Linked DNA regions of Homo sapiens: region 1 is linked to region 2. Evidence: fine-mapped expression QTL. Tissue or cell type: whole blood. Region 2 holds a variant in brackets; the other region holds the start of a gene. All regions are shown on one strand. Distances are from middle to middle.

Region 1 (4,214 bases), 47 kb after region 2:
TCTCTCTGTATCAGCACAGGGACAAAGACGGGACCTGCTGGGCTCCCACTGCCAAGGTTGCTACCTGTACCGGAACATATGGAAACCCCATTGAAGCGGGTTTGTATTGGAGTTTACAAATGATGCGATAAGCTCCAAACCACCTTTCCGGATTCTTCCATCCACCCAGAGCAAGGTGCTCTGAGGTTCAAGTTAGGCCCAGACATCAGTCAACACAGAGTCCTGCTCCCTGGGAATTTCTTTAGTCTCAGAGCCACAACATTTAAGCTTTCTCCCCTCCTCCCAAGCCCAATGCTGGCTTAAATACAGTCACGAATGGTTCAGATGCAGACAGGTTCTGAGAAATGATAGTTAGATAACTTCATCACTGTGCAAACATCACACAGGGCACCTACACACCTAGGCGGTGCAGCCTGCTACACACCTGTGCTCCACTGCACAGACTCCTGCTCCAGACTGCACACCTGTGCAGCGTGCACAATACCGCAGGCAATTGTAACACAATGGTGTTTGTGTATCTACACATTTCTAAGCATGAAAAAGACACAGGGAAAACAGTTTTATAATCTTACAGGACCACCGTCAACTTGGCGGTCTGTAATTGATCCGAACGTGGCTGTGCTACACATCACTATAATGTAAGCAACATCTTTTAACTGATTTTATTATGTGCTGTCCAATGCTATGGCCAGCAATGCCTGTGCAACTGACATGGAAAGTTCAAAGGCTTTACCTCATTACAATTTTTACTTAGTTATGCCCTGATGGGAGCATTGCAATGCCAGTTACCATAAATCTGCACACACGAGGTTGTTGCTGGAGCAAATCTGAAGGCAATGGAACGCTCCCTTCCGTGATGTCAGGAATGGGGAGGATTATTCTAATAATAGCACACTATTAGCTCAGGATAAAAGGCTGAAGGGTTCCATTGACATCCATTAAGGGGTCCTAATTGGAGCCTGAGTAACTGCTCCTTAGTGGGAAATGGAGGCGGGAACCGCGGGGAATCGGGCGAACTTCTCACTCAGGGCCTGAGGGGATGGCTGGAACTTTAAAATCTGACGGCGGCGCCTTTCGTGGGCTGAGTAGAATAAAGCTCGCTGCACTGATTTGTTCCTTTTCTTTTCCTTAGAATAGACACTGGAGTGGGTGGAGGGGGAAACGTGGTTTTGTAGGACTCTAAAGAGGTGGAGGGACTTTGGTTCACCCTCTTTTCATGCTCCAGAATGAGCCCCGCCTGAGAGGAGGGACCCCTGCGGAATCCCGCCCAGACCGCCCGGGGGTCTCCCCAGCACATGGGGCGGGGGCTGCAAGGGGCGCCCGGCAGGACTCGGGAGCCGCGGCGCGGTGGGGCGGGTGGGTCGCGGTGCTCGGGGCTCGCGGGGGTCAGCAGCCAGGACACCCCCGCACCCCGGGCGCAGCGGCGGAGGACCAAGGGCCGCGCTCCCCTCCCCAGGGCCCCGAGTCCAGGAGAGACCCCCGTTCGCTCCGGACAGCCGATCCCCGCGACCGCCGAGAGCCAAGCGGAGCAACCCCGGGAGGAGCCCCCGCCCTGGCCCCGCGCGCTTGGCTTCGGCTTCTGCTCCTGCTTCCGTGCCGGCTGGGGCGGCGGGACCCTCGGCGGGGGCGGTGACTGCGGGCGCGGCGCGGGCGGCTCATTGTCTTCCGGCCGGGGTTGCCGCGTCCCGGGGGAGGGCCTGTGGAGACCCCGCGAGGAGGCCCCCACGCCCCCCACGCGGCCTCCCGGAGGCGGAGCGGAGACCACCCACCGCCGCCCACCCCGCCGCGGGCAGCGCTGCCCCCTCCTCTCCCGGTCCCCCCTCCCCTCCCCTCCGCTCCGCTCCCCTCCCTCCCCTGCCGGCCTCCCCTCCCCGCCTCTCCCCTGCCGGCCTCCCCTTTTCTCCCCTCCCGCCTACTGCCGCTCTCGCCGACCACCTCCCACCCGCCGCCCCCTCCGACCCGCGCCTCGGGCTGCTTCCCGCTCCGCCCGCCAGGCCCCGCCGCTGCCTCCCCGGGGTCCGCCCTACCTCGCCGCGGCTCCTCTTCAGCCGCCGGGCCCGGGACGCGCAGCCAGGCGGGTGGGCTCCGGCGCATGCGCGCGGCCGCTTCCCGGCACCTGTGGGAGCCGCGGCCCGGCCTCTCCGAGCACCTGCGAGCGGGAGCTGCTCCTCCGACCCGCAGCGGGGCGTGGGCGGCAGAGGGGGCGGTGGACAGGCCTCTCCGCCTCTCCAGGCCGCGCGGAGCCAGCGCTCCGGCTCCAGGCTGCGAGGGGCGCGCGCGGGGCGCGGGGAGGGGGGCGGGCGCGTGCACACGGGGCGTTTTCGGGCGCGCGCCCCCTGGCTGGGTCTGCGGAGGGGCTGTGGGTTCCCCGGGGCTTCCCTGCCCCGCGCCTGCCCGCCGGGCGCTTCTCCCCCTCCAGGACCGCGGCCCACGTCGCCACTCGAGCCCGAGCCCGAGCCCGCGCCCACGCGCGGGGGCCGCTTCCTGCGAGGAGGCGGGGACAGGTGTCCGCGGGCGCAAACAGCGGAGTTTCGTGCGCCTATTTTTTGGTAAAAGTAGAGGCGATGCGTTGTTGACATATTTAGTGGTTAAAAACTTATTGCCAAATTCTCAACAGATTCCAGAATTTTTTAAAGTTCACAACACGAGAGTGGACGAAATGTCGGAGCTTTTGCTCATATCCAGAAATGTGGCCTCTGCCTCCCACTCGGGCCCTGCGGTGCAGACGGGTTCAGGGCGGCGAGGACTGAGCCAGGAGCGCCGAGAGTTCCAGCTGCTCCCAGGCTGGGTTCTAATTAACGCTGGACCCCTGCTGGTAAATGCTATTTTTAATGGCTTTGTGCAAATTAATGACGATGAGATTTCCATAAGTACCGAGAGCCAGAGCCTTTACTTTCTCTTTTTGTGTTCTTTTTGCTTGTGACAGTCTTTGCCAGTTCCATGCTGTATACACATAATGAGCCGTTACAACTCCAGCACCAAAGCTAACGCCCCGGGAACATCTTTAAAACCTTTTTCACTCTGTTGCCAAGAAGAGTAGTACCTGCTGTCAGTACTTGAATTACAGGAGGCTGAAACTCAGCGAGCTACTGGGATTTTTTGAAAATTGAAAACTTCCGTTAACTATAGCAGAAACAGACCCTTTTGGTGGAAGCTAAAATAATTCCCATGCTGCTCCGTTTTTATTTTGTTCAGTTTACTCCAAAAATGTTCCAAACTCTACTGTGATCTTCTTAGTGCATCTCTACTTCCTTTCGGCTGCAGAATAATACTTCTTTTTCTCTTTTGTTTTTTTTTAGAGATGGAGTCTCACTCTGTCGCCCAGGCTGGAATGCAGTGGTGCAATCTCGGCTCACTGCGATCTCTGCGTCCTGGGTTCAAGCAATTCTCCTGCCTCAGCCTCCCAAGTAGCTGTGACTACAGGCATGCACCACCACACCCAGCTAAATTTTGTATTTTTAGTAGAGACAGGGTTTCACTGTACATTGGCCAGGCTGGTCTCGATCTCCTGACCTCAAGTGATCCACCTGTCTTGGCCTCCCAAAGTGCTGGGATTACAGGCATGAGCCACCGCGCCTGGCCTAACTACCCCCATTCTTTTCCAGAGAAACGTGAACAGGCCAAACAAAGCCTCACCTGGCTATCCCGCCACCCTGGGGTTGGGCCTCCAAAGGCCCGGGAGGTCACCTAAGACACGGTGTTCTGAACATGCAAGCCCGACAGCATCTTCTCTACCATTCTGCCAGAGTCCAGAGACCTGGGAATAGGTCATACCCCCCACTGCATTTTACAAGCTTGGCATACATTAGGTTCTCAATAAATACTGAATTAATGAAAAAATTGCTGAAGTAACTGAAAACATCCATCCAAACCCCACACCATCTGGTAGATAAGTAGTCTGTGGGGAGTCCCATATTTTTCTTACCTTAGATATTTATTTGGAAATGGACTGTAGGCCCAATATGGTCAATGAAACTTGCAGAGGAACATTTCATGCCTTTAATTAGTTCTTCATAACTGCAGGGACCTCTAGAGTTCCTGAAATTGAACTGGGTTGTAATACTGTCAAGAAAAAGGAGGACCTATCTTAAATCTATTTCAAGGGTAATACTATTTTACTATGTAAATTTTCCCCTGGTCAGGGACAGCCTGATCATGCATGGTAGACTCGAAGCATGCAAATATTTCAACATGCAAAACCGCCCTAAAAATAT
Region 2 (4,214 bases):
GTGCCCAGCAGGTCGGGGGAGTTGTCAGATGGGAGGAGCCGCGGAGCTCCTCCTGAGGGCCGGCTGGGCCCACACGTGGTTCGCTTTGCGCTTTAAACATTAGAAGAGCGAGTCCTTTGTCCCAGCCCCGGCTGCTGCGCAGCAACAGGAATGCCTAGCAACAGAAACACCGACATCTCACAACTGTTGGGTGCGGAGGCCGGGGCAGACAGAGGGAGGCAGGGAGGCTGGGGCCAGTGTTCCCAGGTCACTCGTGGTCCCTGCTGCTGTGCCTTGTGGAAGGCAGGCCTCTCTGCTGCCACTTCTTGGCTGCCCCAAGGGCAAGCACACGCACAGGCTCCTCTGTTTCAAGGGTTTATGGGGAAATGGAGAAAGGGAGAGGGGAGCAATTAGGAAGAAGACTCTCTGGTCCTGTCCCTCAGCAGTCATGATGCTGTGGTCACCGGGGCCTCCACTCTTTCTCAAGGAAGGTTCTCAGCACATTGCTGTCTTCCAGGGGCCTGGCCAGGATCTGCCTCTGTGGCCTCACTCTTCTTCTGGGTCCTGCCCCCGTTGGGAAGGCAGAGCCTCCACCCTGGGCTCAGGCTGGCTGCCTTGATTCCACCCTCCTGGGACCTGCAGGCCTCCCACGAGATGCCTCCTCCAACCTTGGCCATGATCAGTGCCGACGCCCAGCACTGCCTCAGCAGGAGTACAGAGCCCATGGACACCAGGTGCAGGAGCACGGAGCCCGCGCATGTCGGGTGAAGGAGCACAGAGCTCACGCATGTCAATTGGGCGAGTGCTACCCAGGCCCTGATCCCCTGGCTGTGGGTACTAGGACGTGGTGCATTGTTGCCTAGAGGTAGCCCTGGTTCTACCCACCCTGACACATTCATGGCATTGAGTAGGTCCCTAGTGCTCTGGCCCAGCTGGCGATGGTCCTTCCAAGTCTGGTGGCTTCACACACAGTGCAGCACACGCTAGGTGAGTCTCACTGGGCCTCACTGTCCTTCCTCCCTCTCAGCCCACCTGGCATCTCCAGAGATGCCCACTCCAGGTCCCCAGCCTCAGCCATGCTCCTCACCCCTGCCAGGCTGGTCCCTGCTCACAGCCCCTGGCATCCCAGGCTCTCTCGGCTTGGCCTCCTCCTCCAGGATGCCTTCCCTAGGTCCCCTCAACTCGGCTCCATCCCAAACTCTGGTGCCACCCTCGCCAGCAGCCCATGCCTGCCGGGCCTCACTGGATGGGGTCGTTTTCAGTTCCCGGCCGCCCCGACAGTGGGATGAGCCACGACTGCATCTCATTCATCTCTGCCCGGCTGCACAGCTGGAGCTGGGTGCTGATTCATCTCTGCCCGGCTGCACAGCTGGAGCTGGGTGCTGATTCATCTCTGCCCGGCTGCACAGCTGGAGCTGGGTGCTGATTCATCTCTGCCCCGCTGTACACCCAGAGCTCAGTGCTGACTGAAAGAATTACCTCCAGAAACGCTTTGATATTATCCAGCCGTACCCAGAATCCAAATATCTGATGTGTTCAACCCAAACGACAAACGGGGGAGCGTTTGCATTGTGCCACGAGAATGATTAGCCATTTAACTAGACAGAGGAGTCAGATAGACAGAGTGAGGCAGAAGGCCCAGCCATGCCTAAGGGTCCAGGGTCACAGAACGAGTCCACAACTCCAGCTACAAATCACTCAGCCCCATAGCTTGACCTTTTCAAAAGAACACAGAAAGGAACTTCAAAGGAAATCCTGGAATAGTTAACAAAAAGCATAAGGAATTAACAACTTCATGTTCTTTTCTTCACTGCGATGACCTCTTTAAACAGCAGAGGCCACCAAGAGTTTCTCCGATGTGTTCCCTGAGTGCCACGGGGGAGACAGGGAGCGGGTTCCAAGGTCTGGACGGTGCAGAGAATGGGCTGTTGTCCTCAATCCCTGGTCCCCATCCCTTCTACACACAGGGGAAGACAATGGGCACTCTCTGTTCTGTGTTCTGCATCTCTGTCTGCACAGAGGGGGATCTGTGACAGGGAAGGTGGGGGGAGCATTGGGGTGCAGAGCTCGCCAGAGAGCCAGAGACGTCCTTTCTGCACATCCTCACAAGGAAAGGGCCTGGGAGGCGGCAGAACAGCAGAAAAAGAAAACAAATGGAAATTGCCAAAGCCAGTTTCCA[T/C]AGAAAATGTGAAGTGCTTTTATTGCATCAGCGTCCGGTGCCCAGCGCCTCTGCAGGCTGAGTGCTGACTCCCTGCTGGCTCTGCCCTGCCCCGCTAGGAGAGTCCCGGGCTGCGCAGGTGCACGTCTTGCTATCTGTGCCCGTCCAGGCTGTTTCTAGGTGACTCTGTGGCACTCTGTCCCCTCGGAGGGGACTGTCAGGAAAGCACAAGGCCTGTAGTTCATTCCTCAGTCACAATGGAATTTGACGTTAGAGCCACACAGCACCACAGTGTCAGCAAGACTAAGACACCATGTGAACCACAGAACTACAGAGCGGTTTTAGGAGTAAACATGTTCCAAATAGCAACAGCTGTTGGGCAGCTATTTAGCTGGAAAGGGAACCATGCTTGACCTCATAACTCCCAGGAAATTCATCTCAAGGAAAAGGGCAACTTTAATTAAATAGATTTTGTATCAACTTGTCCTGTATTATGACTCCAGCAGGGTCTGTTGTCTAAAACCAAAGAGAAAATGTGACTGTTCTGGCTTCTGCATGTATTTGAAGGATGACACGACATGGCGATTTTGTTAATGGACAGGCTGTATCTTTTTGATAGATTACATTTTTTCTTAGATTGTGTATGTAAGGTCAATTACATTAGGACCATTTGACGTTTCAGAGATTTTCCAAATTATGCCATGGAGGCAGAAGAAACTTTGAAGACTGTGCTGCAAAGGGTAACATCAAATTTTCAGAAAAACAAATAGCTTCACATTTTAATCTCACTCGTCTCTAAGCTTCTCCCCCCGACTGAGCTACTCAATCTGCTTGAAAGTCCAGGAAGCTCACACCGTCACACCCGAGCCTGTGATTTGATGGAGGGACGACAGCTCCCGAGATGTCTTTATGCGCACACAGGTGTTTAACGGGTGGAATAAATGTGTCAAGGTTGGAAGCCTGGTTTTGGGCAAATTACATTCTGGATCTGGAAATCACTGTGACAATTCTTCACAGGTATGTAGGCCACACGCCGAGTTGCTCACAGGATTAGCTATAAAGTCTGTGAACGTGCAAAATTATTTTGAAGTCTCCCACCGTCAGTGATAGCTGATACCTAAATTGTGTGACAATGTTCAATTCCGAGTTTAAAACTGACTTCATTTTACAGGCCTTGGGGGAAGAGGAGGCTGTGACATCCAGCCTGCACCATTCATAGAAGATGCTTTGTTCTGTGTGATTTGGGAAGGTGTTTTATAAGCCTGGTGCTGTTTATTGTTTAGCATCTCTCACAGACAACTCTCTTTCAAACCCCATTTCTCAAGCGTATCCTAATTCGACACCACCTATTGGTTATGACTTAGGTGTTGACAGTCCTGTTTAGTGTCCAATTTTGATTCCTTTTCCTGATTCTTGTTTTAGGTTTTGTCTTTTGAAGGCCATATGTAAGTGCAAGGAAACATGCTGTATTCTAATGAAACTTAAGATTTACATTCATTTTTTCAAGTGTTCATTTGACGTCCCTCCTACAATAAAAGTCTTCATCTTTTTATGTGACACTTCTCTTCAGTCAGAGCACAGCTCTCCCTCACTTGCAGATGTGAGACAGCCGGGGTTTCCTCCAGGCGCCCTCACTGTAAGCTGTGAGGCTCCCCACAACTTTCTGTTGTAGGACATAGCACATTCTTGATGACTTATTTGTGTATTAACTTGAATAGCGGTTTGTACACCTCCGTATATTAAGAGAACATGCGTGGAGGCAGAGTTTCTTATATAAAATCTATTCTTATTTCCTCTTATAAGAAATCTTGACAATAAATTAAGAGATTAGGGAGTTTACATATTGCATACTACTATTAACAAATATTAAATATTTTCATTGTTAAAAGATTAATGATTAACCCCAAAAAGAGAAACCATCAGGAAAAAAAGTATTGGATTTGATATTCAATGATATTCAATTAAGGATTGTTATTCAATAAAATATCCCACCAAAAAATGCTAACAGTTATGTGGAAGAATATATTTAACATTTCTAAAATACATAAAATGGTAATATCTAAATCTACAAGAAATT

What was found. PIP is the estimated chance that this variant, and not a neighbour inherited with it, causes the effect.
Region 1: KBTBD11 starts here. The variant in region 2 is fine-mapped to the expression of KBTBD11 in whole blood (TOPMed, PIP above 0.99).

The regions. Positions count from the first base shown.
Region 1 is chr8:1,971,749-1,975,962 of GRCh38, reverse strand. It overlaps KBTBD11 (kelch repeat and BTB domain containing 11), which reads right to left and starts at 2,286. Exons shown (of 2, transcript NM_014867.3): 1 at 2,028-2,286. KBTBD11-AS1 (KBTBD11 antisense RNA 1) reads left to right here and starts at 2,618. Exons shown (of 3, transcript NR_136275.1): 1 at 2,618-2,815; 2 at 3,300-3,423; 3 at 3,606-4,214. It overlaps KBTBD11-OT1 (KBTBD11 overlapping transcript 1), which reads right to left. Exons shown (of 3, transcript NR_126346.1): 2 at 3,926-4,038; 3 at 1-64.
Region 2 is chr8:2,018,921-2,023,134 of GRCh38, reverse strand. No RefSeq gene overlaps it. Among named protein-coding and RNA genes, the nearest start is that of MYOM2, 24 kb to the left of the region's middle. RefSeq lists an enhancer at 714-1,703. The variant T/C (reference allele first, on the strand shown) is at 2,159.